7 linked regions of the Homo sapiens genome follow. The protein of the gene in region 1 interacts with the protein of each later gene in a pairwise test. Each region holds a gene or a part of one and is shown in the gene's direction. Other genes may lie near its edges.

Region 1 (3,500 bases):
CGCCCACTTGCCTCTGCTCCCACCCTGTGGTCTCTGCACGTGCCAGCTCCCCTTTGCTTTCCACCGTGAGGGGAAATAGCCTGAAGCCCTCACTGGATGCCCAATCCTGAACTTTCCCAACCAGCAGAACCATGAGCCAAATAAACCTCATTTCTTTATAAATTACCCAGCCTCAGATATTCCTTTTTGGCAACACAAAAATGGACTAAGAGAACTAGAGTAGCTGATAGAATTTTTTAAAAGAAGGGTAAAGTTGGAGGAACTATACTACTTGATTTTGAAGCTACAGTAATCAGGACAATGTGGTGAAGGGACAGACACGTAAGTCAATGGAATGGAGACGAGAGATTTCTACAAATATGGTCAATGGGTTTTTTTTAACAAAGGTACAAAAATCAATTTAATGGAGAAAAGACAGTCTTTTCAGCAAATGTTACTGGAATAGTTGTCATCCATATCTAAAAAACAACACCTCAACCTCACATCTCATACACAGCTGAACTTAAAATTGATCATAGATCTAAGTGTGTGAAATGTAAAACTATAAACCTCCTTGAAAAAATCATAGAAAATCTTCATCACCTGGACTTGGGCAAAGACTTTTTACTCTAAAAGCGTGATCCATAGCAGAAAATGTTGATAAATTGAATTTCATCAAAACTAAAAATGACTGCTCTGCAAAAGGATGATGCTAAGAGAATAAAAAAGACAAGCTAAGATTAGGAGAAAATATTGCAAAGAACATATCCAGTGTGTGTTCTGAATATACAGAGAAATCTCAAAACTCAACAGGAAGAAAACAAGCCAATTGAAAATGGGCAAAATACTTGAACAGACACTTTACCAAAGTGGATATACAGATATCAAATACACACATGAAAAGATGTTCAGCATAGCCATCAGGGAAATGCACATTAAAGCCACAGTGAGATATCACTTACACCCATTGAAAAATGACTACAATAAAAAAAAAATCTGATAGTAATACCAACTGTCATCGAGGATGAGGAACAGCTGAAAGTCATGCATTGCTGGAGGGAACATGCCACTGTGGAAACAGGTGGGTGCTTTCTTATAGACTTGTATGTGCACTCACCTTATGCCCAGGAGTCCCTCTCCTGTGTGTTCAACCCAGAGATATGCAAGCTGTGTTCACACAAAAACCTGTATGTGAATGATTATACTAGCTCTCTTTATAATTGCAAAAAAAAAAAAAACAAAACCTGGAAACAACCCAAGTGTCCTTCATCTGGATAATCCTTAAGGATAAACTGGTGCGTCCACACAGTGGAATACCACTGAGCAGTGAAGAGGAGCCAGTTATTGAAACAGGTAATTTGGAGGAACCCCAGAAACGGTACAGTGAGTGAAAGAAACTTGTCTTGAAAGGTTATGTACTGTTTGGTTCCATTTGTATGATATTCTCAAAAAGACACAAGACCATGGGGATGGAGACCAGATCGGTGGCTGGAGAGGCTGGGGTCGGGGAGGGCATGACCACCAGAGAAAAGGGTGAAGAGTGTTTTGGGTGGCAGAGCTGTGTGTATGCTGGCTGTGGTTGTGAGGACAAAATCCACACAAGCGCTCAAGTTCGTAGGCTGTACGCCAGAAAAGCTGTTTCACTACATAACTGAAAAAATAAGATTGAAAAATAAGATGTATATATTTTTTGTGTGCGTGTGTAGAAAAATACTTGAAGGTAAACTGCAGAGTGATAACAGTGGTTCCTTCTAGGTACTGGGTTAATATGTGATTTTTATGTTTGTTTGAGCTTTTCTAAGTTTTCTACATTTTCCGTACAAAACATGTATTACTTCTGTAATAAAAGCAGCTTGAGATTATTTAAGGAAGCAAAACACTTCTGTTGTTTCTCATCAACTACAGGATGAAGTGCAGGCTCCCTGGGTGGTTTGCAGGGGCCACAGGCCTTGGCCCCACCTCGCTGGTGCTCCCTCTACTCCTTTCTGTGTTTGAAGCAAGTTCTGGTTCAGACAGAAAGCCTGGCCTTTGAGGGCGTTGGGTCCCCACTTCCTCAGTCATAGATGTGATGTGCTTCCCTTGACTTGGGACCTTCTGAGGGATGCAAGGTGGACCAAAGGACCCGTGAATGGCCAGGGCATGCCTGCGTGGCTTTCGGTTTCTTAAGCAGTGATTTCAGTCCACTTAAAGGGTGTGAAAATTCTGAGAATGCTACGGACCAAATATATTTTATGTAACAGTTGGGACCCGGCAACACTTCAGGGCTCTTTCAAAATCTGGTAGCTACGAGCTCTTCCGTGACTGAGATGGGACAAGAGTGAAGATTTGTCCTTGCTTTTAGCTCTGCTCCAGTTCATAGTTCTAATGGGAAATTATGTGACTTAAACCCAGGCTGTGAGATGCATCAGTGACGTGTGGGCATAAAATAAACCCTCGAGATGTTCTCTTGCATGGTACACTGGCCTAGGCAGGAATATTCTTGAGGCTAAAACTGTAGAACTGTCAGACTAGTGTTACGAATGTGGTGGTGAGAGGCCTGTGCAGCCGCGGGGCCTGTGATGTGTCTCCTGTGTGTCTTTCACTCCTATGCAGTTTGAGTTCATGATCGAGTCCATCCTGTATGCCCGGGATGCCTGGCTGAAGGAGGACGGGGTCATTTGGCCCACCATGGCTGCGTTGCACCTTGTGCCCTGCAGTGCTGATAAGGATTATCGTAGCAAGGTGCTCTTCTGGGACAACGCGTACGAGTTCAACCTCAGCGCTCTGAAGTAAGTGTCCACAGCTGGGACTGGCACCGTCTTGTGGGGCCTCCTGGTCCACAGTCTGCAGGTGGGCCAAGGCCCTGGGAGATCCCATACGACGGTTGGATAAATGAGGGTACCTGTGCACCCAGATAGGACAATCTGTTGTAGCATTGGAGTAATTAAAGCAGTATGGTGCTATAACAAGACAGATGGGCAGAGCAGGGTAGAATGCAAGGAACAAAAATTTTCGTATGTGAAAAAGGTGGCATTACGATTAGGAGGGAGTGAGGGCCAAGTCAGCAAATTATTCTGGAGCAGTTGATTAGCCCTTGTTCTCTCACGCCATACGTGAAAACTTAATTCTGCATGGAATCAGCGTCAGCGACAGACATCCATGGGGGCCTGTGTGCACCATCTTAGGTGGAGAAATGAGCAGCAACAATGGATGGAATGGACCCTGGGCTAGATAGAATCTGGCAGTCTATGTGGCAGAAATCAGCAAAAACACGATTGTAAAAGCAAACAAGTAATTAGAGAAATCACGTGCTGTCAGGTCTTGGAATCAATTAGAAAGAGATGACTAGCCAGATGGAATTGCAGCCCAATCATGTGAACAGGCAAACCGCAAAAAATAAATAAAATTACCAATAAATATATGAAAAATTATAATGTTGTTAGTAGTTAAAATGCGAATTAAAATACATGCTGTTTTCCCTACCAGACAAGCAAAGAGTAAATTAAAATAGTAGCCCAGGCTTGCCTGGCAGTGGCAGGGAG
Region 2 (3,500 bases), on another chromosome or scaffold:
ATTAGAAAATTTCTTTTTATCACCCAAAATGTGCCCCCTAGAGGCAATCATAGTTAATGTTTTGGTGCGTTCTAATCTTTTCCCCCATGCATATGTAACTTTTTATATAGTTCAGATCATACCACACATGCAATTTATCTTACTCTTTTCCCATAATTTGCTACTGTAATTTTCTCATGCTATTGAAATGTTTTTGTAAATGTCAAGTTTTTAATAGCTGTGCATTATCTTATTAAATGGATATACTATCCTCTATTGTTAAAATTTAGGTTGTTTCAAATTGTCCCCATAAGTAACACTTAGTGAGTTTTTTTTTTTTTTTTTTGAGACAGGGTCTTGCTCTGTTGCCTAGGCTGGAGTGCAGTGGTGCAATCATGGTTCACTGCAACCTCCTCCTCCCAGGCTCAAGCTATTATCCCACTTCAGCCTCCCAAGTAGCTGGGGCCACAGGTGTGTGCCACCACACCCAGCTAATTTTTGTATTTTTTGTAGAGATGGGATTTTGCCATGTTGCCCAGGTTGGCTCTCGAATTCCTGGGCTCGAGCGATCCACCTGCCTCAGCCTCCCAAAGTGCTGGGATTATACCACGCCTGCCCTAGCATTCTTTTTTTTCTTTTTCTTTTTTTTTTTTTTGAGACAGAGTCTCAATCTTGTTGCTCAGGCTGGAGTGCAGTGGCGCGATCTTGGCTCACTACAGCCTCTGCCTCCCGGGTTCAAGCAATTCTGCCTCAGCCTCCCGAGTACCTGGGACTACAGGCACATGGTGCCATGCCTGGCTAATTTTTTGTATTTTTAGTACAGATGAGGTTTCACCATGTTGGCCAGGATGGTCTTGATCTCCTGACCTCGTGATCCACCTGCCTCGGCCTCCCAAAGTGCTGGGAGTACAGGCGTGAGCCACCATGCCCCGCCTGCACTAGCATTCTTGCACATACCTCTTGCACATATTTCTGAGTAGTTCCTTAGGGTAGATTCCTAGAAGAGAATCACTGGGTACAAACATTTAGGTTCTTGCCAAATTACCTTCCAAAAGAGTTATGTTACCATACATGCCCACTTCCCTGCACTCTTCCTAGCACTGGATTTCATTTTAAATTATTTTTGCTAATTAGGAAGGCAAACAATAGTATCTGATTGTTTTAATTACAGTGTATTCTGAGTTGTTGAGAAAAAATTCCCCACTCTGGGGAAGATAGCAACTGGCTGTTGTACTGAAGGACACCCTCCCTGCCCCAATCCTGGCTAAGGGGCCGAGGGTACCCATTGACCCTCAGTCCTGACTATCGTGGCCCGTGCCTGGGTGTGGGGGTGGTGGAGCACCCCTACCACCCAGTGCCCATAATTATGTGACATATCCCTGTGTTACTCCCTCCCCCAGGGGTTGACAATGGTGAAGACATCCCCCGAGACCTCCTGGTGGGCATCTACCAGCGCATCCAGGGGCGTGAACTGCGGACCAACGATGACCATGTGTCCCAGGTGCAGGCTGTGGAGCGCATGATTGTTGGAAAGAAACCAGTAAGTGCCTTGGGAGGCTGCAGAGGGGCCAGGGTTCAGGTCTGCCTCTGCCACTAAGTGGTAAGTCACTGCACCTCCCTGAGCCCCAGGTGCCCTTTACCTGCAATACAGAGTGGGTGATAATGCATTCCTCAGAAGGCTGTGGTGCAGAGTGAATGCATCGAGCACATTCCAAGGCCCATAGTGGGTACTATATAAATATTAGCATCCTTTTCACCTCCGGCTTTGCCTGTCCATCCTAAGTGAAGAGCCAAGCTAATGGTTAGCAGAAAACCAAAGTAAGAACACACTTTAGGCCAGGTACAATGGCTTGTGCCTGTAATCCCAGCACTTTGGGAGGCCGAGGTGGGTGGATCACCTCAGGTCAGGAGTTCCAGACCAGCCTGGCTATCATGGCAAAACCCTGTCTCTACTAAAAATACAAAAATTAGCTGCGGGCGTGATGGTGCATGCCTGGAGTTCCAGCTACTCAGGAGGCTGAGGCAGGAGAATTGCTTGAACCCGGGAGGCGGAGGTTGCAGTGAGCTGAGATCGTGCCAACGCACTCCAGCCTGGGGCCACAGAGCAAGACTCCGTCTCAAAAAAAGAAAAAAAAAAAGAAAACGCTTTAGCCAACAAACATTTGTGGATGCCTTTCCACTGAGCCCAGCATTTGCTGGGCACCAGAGTTGGTGCTGGGCATTCATAGATATGAATCAGACGTGTTCTCTATCCTTGGGGGCACTCACAGACCAGTCGGGGTGTGAAACAAAGACACATATAATACTTCTGCTTTATGGTCCAGTTTAGGAGAGGAGAAAGGAGAGAGAGACCATTTTCAGCCTGGAGAAATCAGGGAAGGCTTCTTGGAAGAGATCATTTTGGGATTGAATTTTTTTTTTTTTTTTTTTTTTTTTTTGACATGGAGTTTCACTCTGTCACTCAGGCTGGAGTGGAGTGGCATGATCTCGGCTCATTGCAACCTCTACCTCCTGGGTTCAAACGATTCTCCTGCCTCAGCCTCCTGAGTACCTGGGATTGCAGGCGCCCACCACCACACCCAGCTAATTTTTGTGTTTTTAGTAGAGACGGGGTTTCACCATGTTGGCCAGGCTGATCTCGAACTCCTGACCTCAAGTGATCCGCTCGCCTCGGCCTCCCAAAGTGCTGGGATTACAGGCGTGAGCCACTGCGCCCGGCCGGGATGGAAATTTGAAAGGGAGTTGAAATATGACCATGCAGAGCTGGGCAAGAAAGACATTCCAGACAGAAGGGCAAAGGCAAGGTAGCAGATAAGTTTAGGTCTTAGTTGCTGATACCCCTTGTGTCAGAGTGACACACATGTATGAGTGGTAAACTTCTTGCGGTTGAAAGTTAAGGTGCCAGGAGGCCTGAAGCTGATGGGCTGGCCTTGCTGACACCTGTTTCTTCATGCCTGTCTAGGTCCTGTCTCTCCCTCACCGTCGACTGGTTTGCTGCTGCCAGCTCTACGAGGTGCCAGATCCAAACCGCCCCCAGAGGCTAGGGTTGCATCAGCGGGAGGTCTTCCTCTTCAATGATCTCCTTGTGGTATGAGCACTGTGGGGGAGGAGATGGGAGGGAGAGAGTGAGCTTGACACCTAAGTCTGGTGTGAACCATATTGATGTAGGTGTGTGGTGTGTGGAGTGTGGCGGGCGAGGTGTTCTGCCATGCCATCTGCATGGTCTCAGGCAAGGCCCAGGCCTTCTCTGCCCCTCCTTTTCCTCACAGATGCATTTGGAGGTAGTAACAGACACACAGGGACAGAAAATATGAGGACCAAAGGAGATGACAGACTTACAACCTGGGAAGTGGTAGGAAATATCCCTGTCCACCTCAATAGCCCATAGGGTTGTGTGAAGAGGGGTGAACCTGCGACCCCCCAGGTCAGTCTGGAAATCTTCAGTAATCAAGATGCTTGAAGTGGGCTCGGCACTGTGGCTCACACCTATAGTCCCAGAACTTTGGGAGGCCAGGGCAGTT
Region 3 (3,500 bases), on another chromosome or scaffold:
TTCTCCATCTCCCTCCCCATCTCACTCAGTCCCTCCCCTCATCTCTCTCAGCCCCCGTCTCCCTCCTCCTCCCCATCTCCCTCCTCCTCCCCATCTCCTTCCTCCTCCCCATCTCCCTCCAGCACCCTTCTCCCTCCTCTTCCCCATTTCCTTTCCCCTCTCCCTCTCCCTACTCCTCTCCCTCCCCCCTCCCTCCGCCTCCTCACCTCCCTCCCTCTCCCCATCTCCTTCCCCCTCCCCCATCTCCCTCCCTCTCTCCATCTCTCTCCCCCCCATCTCCCTCACCCTCCCCATCTCCCTCTTCTTCCCCATCTCCCTGCAGCCCCCTTCTCCCTCCTCCTTCCCATCTCCCTCTAGCCTCCCTTCCCCTCCCTCTCCCCATCTCCTTCTAGCCCCCTCCAGCCTCCCTCCCCTGTCCTCTCCCCTCTCCCTCCAGCCCCCTCCCCCTCCTCTCTGTCGCTGTCTGTCTCCCTCCAGCCCTCCTGCCTCTCCCCTTGCTCCTCCTTCCTCTCTCCTTCCTGGCCCCTGATCCACCTGCCTTAATTCATGAACAAGGGATTCCCACCACCGCTAAAGCAGAGAAGAGCCCCTGGAGGTTGTGTGGAAGGGACTTTTTATTCTTTTTTTTTTTTTCTTTGAGACAAAGTCTCGCTCTTGTTGCCCAGGCTGGAGTGCGGTGGCAGATCTTGGCTCACTGCAACCTCTGCCTCCCGGGTTCAAGTGATTCTCCTGCCTCAGCCTCCTGAGTAGCTGGGATTACAGGCTCCCACCACCATGTCCAGCTAGTTTTTTGTATTTTTAGTAGAAACAGGGTTTTGCCATGTTGGCCAGGCTGGTTTCGAACTCCTGACCTCAGGTGATCCTCCTGCCTCGGCCTCCCAAAGTGCTGGGATGACAGGCGTGAGGCACTGCACCCAGCCTGTGTGAGGGACTCTTGACTCTGCCCCCTGTGGTGGGGACACTGCTCTCACTGTAAGTTCCCACTCAAACCTGAACAAAACGCCATCTCCTTGGTTCCCCAGTTGAAACACACTGACATTTTCTTTTCTATTAATCTTTAGATTTTTTTATTAGTTAAATTTTTTAATTGCTTTTTAATTGAAAAGGATCTAAAGATTGAGAAAACTTGAGGGAAAATCCTTGACGGGACAAAAGCATATATAAAAAAATAAACTCCCTCTCACTTCAGATGGACAATCCAATGTTTTTCCTTTTTTTTCTTTCCTACGACCTATGGTAAAAAATACATTTCATATTGCAACCCAGGAAGCACACATAGGATGTATTGCAACAAAAGTTTTACAAAACAGTGTTTTCTATTTTGTCCTTTTCAATTTTAGTTTTTTTATTTTTTATTTTTATTTTGAGACAGGGTCTCACTCTGTCACCCAGGCTGGAGTGCAATGGTATGATCTCACTACAACCTCCGCCTCCCAGGTTCAAGCCATTCTCGTGCCTCAGCCTCCCGAGTAGCTGGGATTACAGGCGCCCACCACATGCCTGGCTAATTTCTGTATTTTCAGTAGAGACGGGGTTTCACCATGTTGGCCAAGATGGTCTCAAACTCCTGGCCTCAGGTTACCCACCCACCTTGGCCTCTCAAAGTGCTGGGATTACAGATGCAAGCCACCACACCCAGCCTATTTTTAATTCTTAAAATAACCACCAACAGGGTGTAACTTGTGGTTTGCAGTTTGCAAAATACTCCTAATTCTCTTCCCCAAAGGTAACTGTTAGCGGTCTAGTCTGCATTCTTCTAGTTTTATTTTACACATATATAAAACGCTTGCTTACGTTTGCAAAAATGAGCACATACTATAACTTATGTGCCTTTTTTTCCTTATCATATACCTTGGCGATGTTCCCCAAGGAATGTGTGCTTACAGTTCCCCTGGAGGCTAAATTCTGTGGGTCCCCCTCCCCCGGGCCCCCCCCAGAAGTTGTTACCAACAGCACCTTCTTTTTCACATCTGAGTAGTCTTCCTCAATGAATTTTTCATCTTGTATTTAGCCAGTTCTCTATGTATGAACCTTTTTTTTTTTTTTTTTTTTTTTTGAGACTGAATGGCACGATCTTGGTTCACTGCAACCTCTGCCGCCTGAGTTCAAGCAATTCTCCTGCCTTAGCCTTCCAAGTAGCTGGGATTACAGGTGTGCACCATCACGCCCAGCTAATTTTTGTATTTTTAGTAGATATGTGGTTTCACCATGTTGGCCAGGCTGGTCTCGAACTCCTGACCTCAAGTGATCCCCCCGCCCCAGCCTCCCAAAGTGCTGGGATTACAGGCATGAGCCATCACGCCCAGCCTATGTATGAACCGTTAAATTACATTTCAGCTATTAGTTTGTACACACAATGCTGTGTGGGTCCCTTGGCAAGCTTTTGGAAGTGTATCTGTAGTGTATATTCTTAGGAGTGGAAATGCTAGGTTAAAATGCATGTGTAATACTGAGTTTCAGTTTGGGATGATGAAAAAATTCTAGAGACAGATGATGGTGATGGTTGCATGATGGTGCAAATGTACTTATGCCACTGAACTATACACTTAAAAGAAGCTTAAGATGGTCAATTTTCTGTTATGTATATTTCTCCACAATAAAGAAGGGAAAAGAAGTAATGCATTGTAAGTTTGATATTACCAAATTGCTCTTTATGGCTTTTAAAAATTATTATTCAAAAGTAATACATGCTGCCAGGCGCGGTGGCTCATGCCTGTAATCTCAGCACTTTGGAAGGTGAAGGTGGGTGGAGCACCTAGGTCAAGAGTTTGAGACCAGCCTGGCCAACGTGATGAAACCCCGTCTCTACTAAAAATACAAAAATTAGCCGGGTGTGGTGGTACGCACCTGTGATCCCAGCTACTCAGGAGGCTGAGGCAGGAGAATTGCCTGAACCCAGGAGATGGAGGTTGCAGTGAGCCAAGATCAAACCACTGCACTCCAGCCTGGGCAACAGAGCAAGACTCTGTTTCAAAAAAAAAAAAAAAAATACAAAAAACGAAACAAAACAAAACAAAAAAAACCACACAAATAATACATGGTTATTATAAAAATGGAAACAATATAGGAGTACATAAAGTAAAATGTTAAATTTCCCCTTCAAGTTGTAGTTGCCACTGACACTTTGGTCTGTCCTTTCCCTACACCTCCCCATCTTTCTTCCTGCATCTTCAGTTTATTTACAGAGACACATGGCCAGGGCTTTTTTGGGGTGTGCAGGTTGTATTTTTTCTTTCTTTTTTTTTTGTTGGAGCTTACATATCCAGTAGGGATTATATTTTTTTCTAAGAAAGACGAGATTGTGTTAAGCTGTTCTACTGCTTTCTTTCCCCACTAGCAGTATGTCCAGGAGATCTTTCCAGATCAGGAAACACAGATTGACCTTTTTAATCTTTTTAATGACCACAGAGCATTCTATTGTAGGGACCAGCATTTCCGTATCGACTGGGTTGATGGTTTTTCAGAAGTACTTTATTCATTCCAGAGGGAGAACAGAGAGG
Region 4 (3,500 bases), on another chromosome or scaffold:
AGTTAAACTGTAGGCAAGATATTTCTACTACCAAAGAAGATAGTGCTGAGAGCAGAAAAAAGGCAGTAGAATAGAGCTCCATGAGACAATTTTTTTCTTGTTCTTTGTTCTTTGTGAAAAATAATATCATTTAATTAAAGGGCATAGCTTATCTGGGTGTCCAAGAATTAAATCATCCACAAAAAGTTAATCTTGCATGTAACGTTAAGCTTGTATTACAGTAATTTCCTAATTTTTTAACTTAAAGTTGATTTTGTTTCCAAACTACATGAGCATTTATCATCTTCATTGTATACAGTAATTCTTTGCTGCCTTATCACTTTGAAAAATGGTATCTTCAGTCAGCTTTTAAAAATAGTGCTATTTTAGTTTATTATGCAGAGTTCATTTAAAATATGTAACATGTATGTTCTTATGTTAAACAGCTATGCAGTTATCACATGGGAAGTGTTATCCAGAAAACAGCCTTTTGAAGGTAAGTATGGTTTGACTTTTTTATGCTCAATAACATCATGTTAGTAGGTCACTCTCAGAACTATCTAAAAATCATGTTATTTTAAATCTGCTTATTCATTTTGTGGAAAACACACTAAAACAACCATTTATCAGTTGTGAATGCATCACATACTGCAAAATATACCGGGTTAAGGATCCAGTTGTGAGTCTACTATATACTGGAAAATGTACTGGATTAAGGATCAGAAAAACCCAGATTTTAATTCTTGTTCTGACAGTAATTAGCTCTGTGATCAAGTCACAAATCTCTTGCGTCCTCATTTTTGTCGCCTGCATAATAAGAATTTTAAATTACTATTTCCAAGTTCTAGTCTAGCTGTAAAATTATTTATATGATAATTTAATTACTACCCCCTCTATAAAGACTAGCAAATATCGAAGACTAATCTGTCCTTTTTATTCCCTGAAAATATTGTTTATTTCTTTATTTTGAGGTTTGTGTAGGTCAGCTTGTTGTGTAACAAAAAACAACCTCGGAATCTCCGTAGCTTATGAAATAAACATTTATTTCTCATTCACATTAAATATTGGTTGCTGTAGCCCTTCTTAGTTCTGCAAGGTTTCGCTCAGCTCTGCTTTACAAATACTCTGTTGACCAAATCCAATCACATGGTCAAGCCCAAAATTAATGAGGTGAGGATATAAACTCATTCCATAGGAATCAGACAAGTCTGGCAATGGTTTGGGGTATATATATTCCTTTTACAGAAAGGGGGGTAAGGCATCATTCCTAAAATTTCAATATTCACTTATTTTCTTTTAGTTAGTTTTAGATGTAAGTAATATGCTTAATCATAATATATTACTAATGAATGCAATCTATTTGTTTTGACAGATGTCACCAATCCTTTGCAGATAATGTATAGTGTGTCACAAGGACATCGACCTGTTATTAATGAAGAAAGTTTGCCATATGATATACCTCACCGAGCACGTATGATCTCTCTAATAGAAAGTGGATGGGCACAAAATCCAGATGAAAGACCATCTTTCTTAAGTGAGTATATAGTTTTAACCTAGACTCTTTGAATTACAGAATTAGTTAATATACTGTGAATAAAATATTCCTTGAAAAATTGTGCAAATTAGATGACTAGCTAGAAGTTGTTTAAATTATTTTCTGTCTTATCATAGCATTTATATATGAGTAACTCCTTCTAGAGCAGAATTGAGAATTCCTAACAAAAAAGAGAAATCGTGTGATAGGAGTAACAATTTCTTTCATATATTTAACAAATATGTCTTAAACCCCTACCATGTGCTATGTATATACTGGAGTGAGCCCTGGGAACAGAGTAGTAAACAAGACAAACTTTCTGTAGCTAGTTCACATTCTAGTTGAGAAGGCAGAGTGAAAACAAATAAATAAGCAAGATACACAAATTGTGACAGTCTTATAAGGAAATAAGCAAGGTAATAGACTAATTAAGGGAGGGAAACAAAGGCCTTTTTTTAGGGGCAAACATTTGAGCTGACATTTGAAGCTTGAAAAAGAGCCAGTCATTCAAATGCTGAAGAAAGAGTATTCAGCCAAACAAAACAGCAAGCATAAAGGCTCTGAGCCTAGAAGAGGAAAAAGTTTTATATTCTCAAGAAACAGTGAGAAGGCCTGTGTGGCTGGAATACAGTGAGCAAGGAAAGGAATTAGATGATATTGGAGAGTTAAGAGAGAGGCTATTGGCCATCATAAAAAGGTTAGATTTTTATTCCAAGTGCAATGGAAAGCCATTAAAGTATCTTTTGCAGGGAAGTGACATGATCTGATAGAAGTTTAGGTGAAATTCTTACTGCTGTGTGGAAAGTTGATTGGAGAAAGACAAAAGTGGAAGCAAAGAGGCTAGAAAAGACACTTTCAGGAATATTCTAATTAAGGTGGAAATTCTGAAGACAGAAGAGTTACAGAATTAAGATAGTATTTCAGAGGTAGAATGGATCAGACATCCAAATGTAAATGTAGGAGAAAATCTTCATGACCTAGGGTTAGGCAGAATCTTTAAATATGACATCAAAAATAAATAGGATTCATTAAAAAATTTATAATCAGACTTTGCAAACATTGGAAACTTTTCCACTTCGAAAGGTACTATTGAGAAAAGAGAAAGCCAGGCATTTAGTGTCCACGACTTTAGTCCCAGGTACTTAGGAGGCTGAGGCAGGAGGATCACTTGAGCCCAGGAGTTTGAGGATGTGTAATAGTGCACTGTGATCGTGCCTATGAATAGCTACTGCACTCCAACCTGGGCAACATAGCAAGACCTCATTTCCAAGAAGGAAAAAAAAAAGCAGAGCCACAGACTGGGAGAAAATATTTGCATAACATGTATCTGCTAAAGGGCTTGATTCTAGAATATATAAAAAACCCTGACAAGTCAATAATAGGACATATAGCCCTATTTTTAAATGAGTAAAAGATTTGAATTTCACCAAGGGAGATATACAAATAGCTAAAAAGCACATAAAATGATGCTTAATATTATTAGTCATTTGGAAATGCAAATTAAAACTGCAATGAGTTACCACTTCATACCCACAAAATAGCTATAATTAAAGACAGAAAATAACAAGTGTTGACAGTGATGTGGCAGAACCAAAATCCGTATACATTGTTGGTGGGAATATAAAATGATGCTGCCACTTTGGAAAACGGTTTGGCAGTTTCTTAAAAATGAAAGATAAATTTACCATACAACCAAGCAATCCACTAACAGGTAAACCAAGAGAAATGAAAACATATGTTCACACAGTTGTATGTGATTAGTGATAGCAGCATTGTTTATAATAGCCAGCAAGTAGAAACGGTCATAATTACTGCTGCTACTACTACAACAATACATGAATCTGTTGTTCCAGGAAGAGTCCAGGATCCTAATATAAAATTGAACATCACTAACATATTGATAGTCTGGACTGGTTCATCTAAGAAGGGAATATACATAGCAAAGAGAGGACCCATAGTAAAGCTCTGAGGCATTCCAGCACTTAGA
Region 5 (3,500 bases), on another chromosome or scaffold:
GTTATACCTCTTTTTCCCTGCAAGACTCAGTATTCCATTGGTGAAAACATGCAGAGTGATTTTGTATGAAAGAAGTATGATGGGCCTGGCGCGTTGGCTCACACCTGTAATCCCAGCACTTTAGGAGGCCGAGGCAGGCAGATCACCTGAGGTCAGGAGTTCGAGCCCAGCCTGGCCCAAATGGTGAAACCCCCGTCTCTACTAAAAATACAAAAATTAGTCGGGTGTGGTGGTATGCACCTATAGTCTCAGCTACTCAGGAGGCTGAGGCAGGAGAATCACTTGAACCCGGGAGGTTGCAGTGAGCCGAGATCAGGCCACTCCACTCCAGCCTGGGTAACAGAGTGAGACTCCATCTCAAAAAAAAAAAAAATTAAATAAATAAGTGAGTATCCCTTAAAAAAAAAAAAAGAAGAAGTATGATGATAAACTTGAACTGGAGAAATTTCATTAATTTTGCTCACAAATGATATCATTTGTATTGCAGGGTTGAAGAACATACAAGTTTAATTACATTATTTAATGGTGTGAAAGTCATAAAAAATAATTGTACTTCTGGCAATTAAGACTCCTAATACTGGGCAAGGCAGTTTTTTAAAAAGAAGAACTTACAAGTTATGGATATACTTCTAAGACCATAGAAATCAGTTAATGTATGTAGAAGAGATTGCCTAAAACTATTTCCACAGACTCCCATATTCCCTTCCCAATCCCATTTGGTTACATACAATGAGCTCGCATAAAACTTCTTCCCTGGCTTTCTCTGCCTTGGCTTCAGTCAGCTTGGTCCCAAAGAGTTTCCTCTTTATTATGCTGTCATGTAGTTGTCTTTGCAGTGCCATGTATTTTACCAGGAGCTTTAAAACACTAATTTTCATTTGGTTTCATTTTTATTTAAATTTCAGTGGAAATAATGTTAATCTGGCAACTTTTAAAAACTCTGGGATTTATCTGTGATTATATATTTCAGATTATTATCTCTTAGAACTTTGTCTGATTTAGTGATAAGAGACAGTTCTAAATGAAGATGTAGGCCACCTAGTTTAGAAACAGATGCTTTAATGAGCTATAATTGGAATTCTTGGGATATTCATCAAATTTCATAACTTATTTTTCTAGCATTGCTCCAAGTTCAGGTAATGCATCATCAGATCCAGAAACAGAGACTCAAAAGTGATTCTCAATGAATACCTTTTGCACAATCTGAAATAATTTATCAATGAGATTGCAAATAACCAAACAAAATAATGCTATGATTTCCAAAGCCTTCAGAAGGGCTACTTTTCTTAGACCTAACGTAAAACCAATTACTTTAGGTGGATGTTGTTTTGCAGCCAGTTGCAATTCAAGTAGGAAAAGGATGTGCTAAGGCTCTTTCTTCCCTAAATGGTGTCAGAATTTCACTTTCATCAATCAATCTTCTAGCCCACAGTTTTTTTCATTACTCTCTGAAATTCGGGAAGACATTAATTCATACCCTTGGTGCTCATAGTACTTTCCTTAATCCCCCAGCTGACTAAAACTTTTGTTTCATCTGACACATAGGAGATCAAGTCATCTGAAAGTTATGTCTTAATGGTTATCTGACTTAATAACACATCAAGTAGCTTGTTCTTGAGAGTTCTAAAGCTATGGCACCTCATGTAGTATAATATGTACTATCATCTGTTAGGAAGCTCACTTATTTCTAGCCATGAGTTTTGTGAGGAACCAGAGGCTACTTCATAGATCTTTCAGCTTTTACTGAAAGATTTTTTTAATGCTTTAATTATAGATTTTTTTGCTTTCTTTTAAGCTTATCTAAGCTTTTGTTTTTTAGAAACCGTTGTGTTGATTTTGTGGTAAAAGTGCAACTCAAATCATTATTATCTATCTATGATGTCATAGACAAACAATGTCTATCTTAGTTGACATAGAAGTTCTCTATTTAAATTATTGCCTGAACAATCTTAATTCCATTAGTTTATCTAACATTTTTAAAGTATTGTCTCTGAAGACAACATGCAGAGATATTGTTCAGAAGGAGATGCATGAATATACATTTTAACTAAGAGTTTTCATCAAGTGAGATTCCCTGGGTTCCTCATCTACTTGCTTATGTGGCTGTCTACAAGTCACTTAATTTACCTTAGTCTAACTGCCTTCTGTAAAGTGGGTTGCTATAGTCTTTAAGCCAATATGTATATTACCGTTTTTGTAATAAACAGTATAAATATGAGAAAATTAAACAGATGCAATTTTAGTTTGTGGATGACCAGCTGTATTCCCAAGATTGAAAAGTGATTACAACTTTAAAAAAAAAAAAAAAAACACCTGTGTTTGAGTGCCCCTGGGAAACATAAAACCCTTTTTTTTCCTGAAACTCAGGAGTATTTCATTAATGGCCAGAGATTTTAAGTAACTAGTTTCTCAGCTCCTAACATGTACTATCTTAATAGAAATGTGTTAATTACAAAGAAAGTGTTTATCTTCCTTATATAAAAGAGGTGTTTGTGTGTGTGTGCATGTGTCTGTATGTATATATGTGTTTGTTGTTCCTTAGGCTATTATTCTTAATAGTTCCCACCATATATATATATTTGGGTTTTTTTTTTTTTTTTTAGACGGAGTCTCCCTCTGGCGCCCAGGCTGGAGTGCAGTGGCGCGACCTCGGCTCACTGCAAGCTCCGCCTCTTGGATTCACGCCATTCTCCTGTCTCAGCCTCCCGAGTAGCTGGGCTACAGGCGCCCGCCACCATGCCCGGCTAATTTTTTGTATTTTTTAGTAGAGACGGGGTTTCACCATGTTAGCCAGGATGGTCTCAATCTCCTGACCTCGTGATCCGCCCGCCTCGGCCTCCCAAAGTGCTGGGATATATTTTTTTACCCAGAGCTTTTTTCTTATAAAATTGCTAAAAGTTAGGGGCTTTGGTCCCAAAAGACTGCTTAATTTCACCTTATCAGTAGGGTAATTGGAATAGTTATTGTGTAAGTTATTACTGTCTGATAGTAAGAATGAAGTTTTTCATTTATAATTTAGTGTTATACTGCAAAATAGGGCAACCCTTTCATAAAACCAGGAAATAATGAGAAGTAGTTTTGCTTTTACTGACTTAACCCGGGGGTCTTTGTTAAATAATAGGATTCAAAATGCCTAAGTCACCTGTTCCCGTTAATCTATAATAAAGAAATATTTTATTGCAAAAAATTATTCTCCTAATTATGTAATAAATTCAGGCGTACATGTTTTTGAAAGTTTTACTGTATTAGAGTTGCTTCACTTTGTATTGTTTTTGTTGTTTCCTATGTTGTTATATTTTAAATGACTTTATAAATGTAGTTAAAGCTATTGCCAAAAAAGTGTAAATTTCCGTTTTATGCAATTCTTCTAACGTTTTATTCTGACATTAACATTGTTTGCCAACCTGTTATTCTTTAGCCTGTTCATCCTCTGCAGTCCTCTTCACAGCCTGTTCAGTACTCTACAGCCCCTTACCCATCCCCGTTCCTGCCAGTCTCAC
Region 6 (3,500 bases), on another chromosome or scaffold:
GGAGTTCAAGGCCAGCCTGGGCAACAAAGTGAGACACCCCCCCCCCCGCCCCCCGCCCACAAAAAGTTTAAAAAACTAGCCAGGTGGCCGGGCGCAGTGGCTCACGCCTGTAATCCCAGCACTTTGGGAGGCCTAGGCGGGCAGATCACGAGGTCAGAAGATCAAGACCATCCTGGCTAACATGGTGAAACCCCATCTCTACTAAAAATACAAAAAATTAGCCGGGCGTGGTGGTGGGCGCCTGTAGTCCCAACTTCTCAGGAAGCTGAGGCAGGAGAATGGTGTGAACCCGGGAGGCGGAGCTTGCAGTGAGCCGAGATCGCGCCACTGCACTCCAGCCTGGGCGACAGAGTGAGACTCCGACTCAAAAAAAAAAAAAACCTAGCCAGGCATGGTGTTGCATGCCTGTAGTGCCGGCTACTTGCGGGTGGCTGAGGTGGGAGGATTGTTTAAGCCCAGGAGTTCTCGTGCCACTGCACTCTAGCCTGGGCAACAGAGTGAGACCTAAAAAAAAAAAAAATGAGTAGGCCAGGTGCAGTGGCTGATGCCTGTAATCTCAGCACTTTGGGAGGCCAAGGCAGGCGGATCACTTGAAGTCAGGAGTTCAAGACCAGCCTGGCCAACATGGTGAAATTCTGTCTCTACTACAAATACAAAAAATTAGCTGGGTGTGGTGGTGCACGCTTTTAATCTCAGCTACTTGGGAGGCTGAGGTGGGAGGATCACTTGAACCCAGGAGGCAGAGGTTGCAGTGAGCCAAGATTGCCCCACTGCTCTCTAGCCTGGGCGACAGAGTGGGACTCCATCTCAGTTAAAAAAAAAGAAAAAGAGTAGAAATTAACCAGAAGTTAGAATTCAAAGAATTAAGTTCAATAAGGCTCACTGAAAGCTCAGGGTGAGGATGGTAGGTATGAACTAGATCAGGGAAGGCCTGTAAGGACTTCATTCTAAGGGCAGTTGGAAGCCATTGAAGGATTTTACATAGGTGAATGTGACAGATTGGCATTTTTGAAAGCTCACTCTGCTTGCAGTGTGGAGAGCAGAATTAAAAGGAGCAAGAGTGATTTAGAGAGAATAGTTATTGAAGTAATCCAGGCAAGAGATAATAGTGGTTTAGACTTTGATGGTATTAGTTGAGATGGAGAGAAGTGGGAAGAGTGGAGAAATATTTAGCTGCTAGAATTCACTTTGAGGTTGAGTAGTTATGGAGAGGGAGGCATCAAGAATGATTCTTAGGTTTCTGGGCTGGGCCGTAGGGTGGATGGTGGTCAAATTTACTAAAACAGAAAAACCTAAAGGAGGAGGAGGAAGAACATTTCTGGGGGTGAGGAGAAAATCATGAGTTAGGTTTCAGACATACTGAGTTTGGGGTTCTTGAGACATAGATTCCAAATGGAGATGTCCACTTGGAAGTTAGATATAGCTCTGGAGTCTAGATGTAAGATCTGGGAGACATAGATTTATAAGTCATCAGCATAAAAATGGTATTTGAAGACACAGAAATAGATGAAGCCTCTCAAGGAATGTGTGTAGAGTAAGAACTGAGGTTAAAGGACATTAAGCCTAGCTCCACAAATAGCAGTATCTAAGGGAACCAATGAAAGAATGGCCAAATAGGTATTCATATTAGGTTGGTGCAAAAGTAATTGCAGTTTTTGCTATTACTTTTAATGGCAAAACCACAGTTACTTTGGCACCAGTGTGATAGGTGGAAAATCAAGATAGTGGATAGTGCGTTGCCATGAACGTCAAGGAACAGACTCTAGGAGGAGGGAGTCGTCAGCTGTGTGAAGTACTGCTGAGACGTCAAGCAAGATAAAGACTGCGAGTTATCTTTTGCACCTACTGACATGTAGATTATTGTTGACCTTGGCAGGAGCAGTTTCATAGTGACTGAAGCCATATTGCATTGATTTGAGGAGTGATGGAAGGTGAGGAAATGGGGATGGTGAGTACAGACAACTCTTTCAAGAAGTTTGACTGAAGGAGAGAGAGAATGAGGGAAGGAGCTGGAGGAATAGATGAAGTAAATGAGCATTTAAAATAAAAATAGGTGGGGACTAAGCTTATCTGGTGACCCTGATTCTTACAGTAGAATGTGAATCTCAAAAATATTTAAGCCTATTTTAAATAAATTTCTAAAATGGAAACCCAATTCATTATTTTACCAGGTGTCCTCCCTGCCCCCTGCTTTAGAATATAAGACATAGAACATTGTCTTATAGGCATTTATGATAACCTGGATAGGGAAGGTAATCTTCTAAAATTAATCTTTAAAACATTACACACAAACACTCACCTCCTTTATAGTTCTCCACTTGGAAAATCATTTAGTATCTAGTTCATTACTAGCAGCAGTGGTCAGTAAGTGCTTCCTGAGTAAATTAAAATCAACATCTTTCTTTTTTTTTTTTTTTTCTCAGAGAGATGGGATCTTGCCATGTTGCCCAGGCTGGTCTGAATTCCTGGGCTCAAGCGATATTCGTGCCTCGGCAGCATCTTTCTTAATAACAGTATTTGTGACAAATAGTTCTATATTCTTAATTTTTTTTTTTTTTTTGAGATGGAGTCTCGCTCTCACCCAGGCTGAAGTGCAGTGGCGCGAGGATCTGGGCTCACTGCAACCTCCGCCTCCCAGGTTCAAGCGATTCTCCTGCCTCAGCCTCCCGAGTAGCTGGGATTACAGGCATGTGCCACCACACCCAGCTAAGTTTTGTATTTTTAGTAGAGACAGGGTTTCACCATGTTGGTCAGGCTGGTCTCGAACTCCTCACCTTGTGATCCGCCCGCCTTGGCCTCCCAAAGTGCTGGGATTACAGATGTGAGCCACCGCACCCAGCCAATAGTTCTACATTCTTTATGTTTGAAATCCCTTCATTCAATCTCGTTTTAAATGTGACCTATATTATGATTTCCCTCTACCTATAAAACAACATCCCATATGAAATGGAGTTATCTGATATGATGGGACATTCAGAAGAGCTGGCATCATTAGCAAGTTCAGGCATTTTTTTTCTTTCTAAAATAGGGATGATCACACTTCTCTTAGGGTCAGTAAGGACATTTGTGAGTGATATCATTATTATTTATTTGCAGAGCTTCAAAAATGTGCTGAAGCCTACCATAGGATTGAATTAGATCTGGTTACTACTTATAGGGTTCATATTAAATAGAAATTGACCTACAAGGCGGCCGGGCACGGTGGCTCACGCCTGTAATCCCAGCACTTTGGGAGGCTGAGGTGGGCGGATCACAAGGTCAGGAGATCGAGACCATCCTGGCTAACATGGTGAAACCCCGTCTCTACTAAAAAATATAAAAAATTAGCCGGGCGTGGTGGCGGGCGCCTGTAGTCCCAACTACTCAGGAGGCTGAGGCAGGAGAATGGCGTGAACTCGGGAGGCGGAGCTTGCAGTGAGCCGAGATCGCGCCACTGCGCTCCAGCCTGGGCGACAGAGCGAGACTCCATCTCAAGAAAAAAAAAAGAGAAATTGACCTAC
Region 7 (3,500 bases), on another chromosome or scaffold:
TTACGCCCCCCACCACCCCCTGCCTGGTTGAAGGGTCCGGCCTGCCGGGCAGCCCGAGAGGATGGAGAGATCTTAGAAGAGCTCTTCTTTGGGACTGAGGGACCCCCCCGCCCTGCCCCACCACCCCTCCCCCATCGCGAGGGCTTCTTGGGGCCTCCGGCCTCCCGCTTTTCTGTGGGCACTCAGGATTCTCACACCCCTCCCACTCCCCCAACCCCAACCACCAGCAGTAGCAACAGCAACAGTGGCAGCCACAGCAGCAGCCCTGCTGGGCCTGTGTCCTTTCCCCCACCACCCTATCTGGCCAGAAGTATAGACCCCCTTCCCCGGCCTCCCAGCCCAGCACAGAACCCCCAGGACCCACCTCTTGTACCCCTGACTCTTGCCCTGCCTCCAGCCCCTCCTTCCTCCTGCCACCAAAATACCTCAGGAAGCTTCAGGCGCCCGGAGAGCCCCCGGCCCAGGGTCTCCTTCCCAAAGACCCCCGAGGTGGGGCCGGGGCCACCCCCAGGCCCCCTGAGTAAAGCCCCCCAGCCTGTGCCGCCCGGGGTTGGGGAGCTGCCTGCCCGAGGCCCTCGACTCTTTGATTTTCCCCCCACTCCGCTGGAGGACCAGTTTGAGGAGCCAGCCGAATTCAAGATCCTACCTGATGGGCTGGCCAACATCATGAAGATGCTGGACGAATCCATTCGCAAGGAAGAGGAACAGCAACAACACGAAGCAGGCGTGGCCCCCCAACCCCCGCTGAAGGAGCCCTTTGCATCTCTGCAGTCTCCTTTCCCCACCGACACAGCCCCCACCACTACTGCTCCTGCTGTCGCCGTCACCACCACCACCACCACCACCACCACCACCACGGCCACCCAGGAAGAGGAGAAGAAGCCACCACCAGCCCTACCACCACCACCGCCTCTAGCCAAGTTCCCTCCACCCTCTCAGCCACAGCCACCACCACCCCCACCCCCCAGCCCGGCCAGCCTGCTCAAATCCTTGGCCTCCGTGCTGGAGGGACAAAAGTACTGTTATCGGGGGACTGGAGCAGCTGTTTCCACCCGGCCTGGGCCCTTGCCCACCACTCAGTATTCCCCTGGCCCCCCATCAGGTGCTACCGCCCTGCCGCCCACCTCAGCGGCCCCTAGCGCCCAGGGCTCCCCACAGCCCTCTGCTTCCTCGTCATCTCAGTTCTCTACCTCAGGCGGGCCCTGGGCCCGGGAGCGCAGGGCGGGCGAAGAGCCAGTCCCGGGCCCCATGACCCCCACCCAACCGCCCCCACCCCTATCTCTGCCCCCTGCTCGCTCTGAGTCTGAGGTGCTAGAAGAGATCAGCCGGGCTTGCGAGACCCTTGTGGAGCGGGTGGGCCGGAGTGCCACTGACCCAGCCGACCCAGTGGACACAGCAGAGCCAGCGGACAGTGGGACTGAGCGACTGCTGCCCCCCGCACAGGCCAAGGAGGAGGCTGGCGGGGTGGCGGCAGTGTCAGGCAGCTGTAAGCGGCGACAGAAGGAGCATCAGAAGGAGCATCGGCGGCACAGGCGGGCCTGTAAGGACAGTGTGGGTCGTCGGCCCCGTGAGGGCAGGGCAAAGGCCAAGGCCAAGGTCCCCAAAGAAAAGAGCCGCCGGGTGCTGGGGAACCTGGACCTGCAGAGCGAGGAGATCCAGGGTCGTGAGAAGTCCCGGCCCGATCTTGGCGGGGCCTCCAAGGCCAAGCCACCCACAGCTCCAGCCCCTCCATCAGCTCCTGCACCTTCTGCCCAGCCCACACCCCCGTCAGCCTCTGTCCCTGGAAAGAAGGCTCGGGAGGAAGCCCCAGGGCCACCGGGTGTCAGCCGGGCCGACATGCTGAAGCTGCGCTCACTTAGTGAGGGGCCCCCCAAGGAGCTGAAGATCCGGCTCATCAAGGTAGAGAGTGGTGACAAGGAGACCTTTATCGCCTCTGAGGTGGAAGAGCGGCGGCTGCGCATGGCAGACCTCACCATCAGCCACTGTGCTGCTGACGTCGTGCGCGCCAGCAGGTGAGTCGGCTGCCTGCTTGCTTGTCCCGGAGACAGGCTCCCTTCCCCCATCACCCTGATGTTTCTGTCTTCATTCCACTGTCCTCCCGCAGGAATGCCAAGGTGAAAGGGAAGTTTCGAGAGTCCTACCTTTCCCCTGCCCAGTCTGTGAAACCGAAGATCAACACTGAGGAGAAGCTGCCCCGGGAAAAACTCAACCCCCCTACACCCAGCATCTATGTATGTGTGCCACTTGGCCTCAGAACCACCCCTGCCAGAGGGTTCTAAGACAGTGTTGGGGACTGCTGGGGTGCTCTGAGCCTGGGCCAGGGCTCTGACCCCAGCTCTCCTGGTCATGTCTCAGCTGGAGAGCAAACGGGATGCCTTCTCACCTGTCCTGCTGCAGTTCTGTACAGACCCTCGAAATCCCATCACAGTGATCCGGGGCCTGGCGGGCTCCCTGCGGCTCAGTGAGTATGGGGGGCAGAAAGTGTTAGGGAGGGCTACAAGGGTCTGGGGCATGTAGGACCCTCTGAGAAATCCCACACTTGAAGACTCATGACAGTGGCCGTGAGGAGTCCACTGAGTGATGGGTCTGCTGGCCTTGGGCTCTTCTCCCATCTGTCTGTCTCCAGCATTTGGCAAGGGAGAAGGGGCCATAGTCAGGGCCTGATTAGTCATTTCTGAATTTTTTGGTGATTAAGGAAGAGAATAATACAGATTTTAGAAAACCCCTGAAAATCTGTGATGTTGGGGCTCTCTCTCAGTCTTTTATTGCGCAGAATTTCAAACACATACAAAATTAGAGAAAGCTGTATAGAAATACAAAGGTCAATCTTGTCTCCTTTATACCTGTATGTTCTCCCTTCCCCACACTGAGTTATTTGAAGCACATTTCAGGCTTTCACTTGACTGAATCTTTAATCTTTAATTGGATCCAATGGTAACTCAAAGAAGCTGCTGTTTTGACTAGACTCCAAATGGGGAAAAAAGAAGCTGCCATTCATTGAGCACCTACTATGTGTCTGTCAGGTGCGGTGCACATGGCCACGCACACATCTGGGAACACTGGTCTAGGGGCTGAGTCCTTGAGCAGCTGCAGGAGAAAGAGGGCTGGTGAGGATGCAGATAGAGGCCAGCACTCCCAGCTTCCTGTGGGGCTAGGGCTCCTGCCTATTTCTTCTGGGCTGAGCTCTGCTAAACCTATGACCACCCTGTCAGAGCCAGAGGAGTAGGAAGGGAAAGGGTCGATTGGGTCCTCGGTCCCTATCCTCTGCCTCTGCCCCGACACCCTGCTCGGCCCTCCCTTCCAGACTTGGGCCTCTTCTCCACCAAGACCCTGGTGGAAGCGAGTGGCGAACACACCGTGGAAGTTCGCACCCAGGTGCAGCAGCCCTCAGATGAGAACTGGGATCTGACAGGCACTCGGCAGATCTGGCCTTGTGAGAGCTCCCGTTCCCACACCACCATTGCCAAGTACGCACAGTACCAGGCCTCATCCTTCCAGGA

Evidence for each region.
Region 2: the proteins of PRMT2 (region 1) and IQSEC2 interact in a two-hybrid assay, tested with the Homo sapiens proteins (one large-scale study listed by BioGRID and IntAct).
Region 3: the proteins of PRMT2 (region 1) and ZNF341 interact in a two-hybrid assay, tested with the Homo sapiens proteins (one large-scale study listed by BioGRID and IntAct).
Region 4: the proteins of PRMT2 (region 1) and RIPK2 interact in a two-hybrid assay, tested with the Homo sapiens proteins (one large-scale study listed by BioGRID and IntAct).
Region 5: the proteins of PRMT2 (region 1) and R3HDM1 interact in a two-hybrid assay, tested with the Homo sapiens proteins (one large-scale study listed by BioGRID and IntAct).
Region 6: the proteins of PRMT2 (region 1) and YLPM1 interact in a two-hybrid assay, tested with the Homo sapiens proteins (one large-scale study listed by BioGRID and IntAct).
Region 7: the proteins of PRMT2 (region 1) and KDM6B interact in a two-hybrid assay, tested with the Homo sapiens proteins (one large-scale study listed by BioGRID and IntAct).

What each region holds. Positions count from the first base shown.
Region 1 is NC_000021.9:46,656,174-46,659,673, forward strand, and holds part of PRMT2 (protein arginine N-methyltransferase 2), read left to right. Parts: intron 1-2,571; coding exon 2,572-2,747; coding exon of another isoform or gene 2,748-2,751; exon of another isoform or gene 2,752-3,500. UniProt on the Homo sapiens protein: Arginine methyltransferase that methylates the guanidino nitrogens of arginyl residues in proteins such as STAT3, FBL, histone H4. Acts as a coactivator (with NCOA2) of the androgen receptor (AR)-mediated transactivation.
Region 2 is NC_000023.11:53,241,351-53,244,850, reverse strand, and holds part of IQSEC2 (IQ motif and SEC7 domain-containing protein 2), read left to right. Parts: intron 1-1,379; coding exon 1,380-1,519; intron 1,520-2,941; coding exon 2,942-3,067; intron 3,068-3,500. UniProt on the Homo sapiens protein: Is a guanine nucleotide exchange factor for the ARF GTP-binding proteins.
Region 3 is NC_000020.11:33,783,996-33,787,495, forward strand, and holds part of ZNF341 (zinc finger protein 341), read left to right. Parts: intron 1-3,377; exon of another isoform or gene 3,378-3,500. UniProt on the Homo sapiens protein: Transcriptional activator of STAT3 involved in the regulation of immune homeostasis. Also able to activate STAT1 transcription.
Region 4 is NC_000008.11:89,771,316-89,774,815, forward strand, and holds part of RIPK2 (receptor-interacting serine/threonine-protein kinase 2), read left to right. Parts: intron 1-425; coding exon 426-475; intron 476-1,351; coding exon 1,352-1,513; intron 1,514-3,500.
Region 5 is NC_000002.12:135,646,484-135,649,983, forward strand, and holds part of R3HDM1 (R3H domain-containing protein 1), read left to right. Parts: intron 1-3,418; coding exon 3,419-3,500.
Region 6 is NC_000014.9:74,769,816-74,773,315, forward strand, and holds part of YLPM1 (YLP motif-containing protein 1), read left to right. Parts: intron 1-1,876; exon of another isoform or gene 1,877-1,931; intron 1,932-3,500. UniProt on the Homo sapiens protein: Plays a role in the reduction of telomerase activity during differentiation of embryonic stem cells by binding to the core promoter of TERT and controlling its down-regulation.
Region 7 is NC_000017.11:7,847,717-7,851,216, forward strand, and holds part of KDM6B (lysine-specific demethylase 6B), read left to right. Parts: coding exon 1-2,012; intron 2,013-2,104; coding exon 2,105-2,231; intron 2,232-2,355; coding exon 2,356-2,461; intron 2,462-2,741; exon of another isoform or gene 2,742-3,304; coding exon 3,305-3,500. UniProt on the Homo sapiens protein: Histone demethylase that specifically demethylates 'Lys-27' of histone H3, thereby playing a central role in histone code. Demethylates trimethylated and dimethylated H3 'Lys-27'.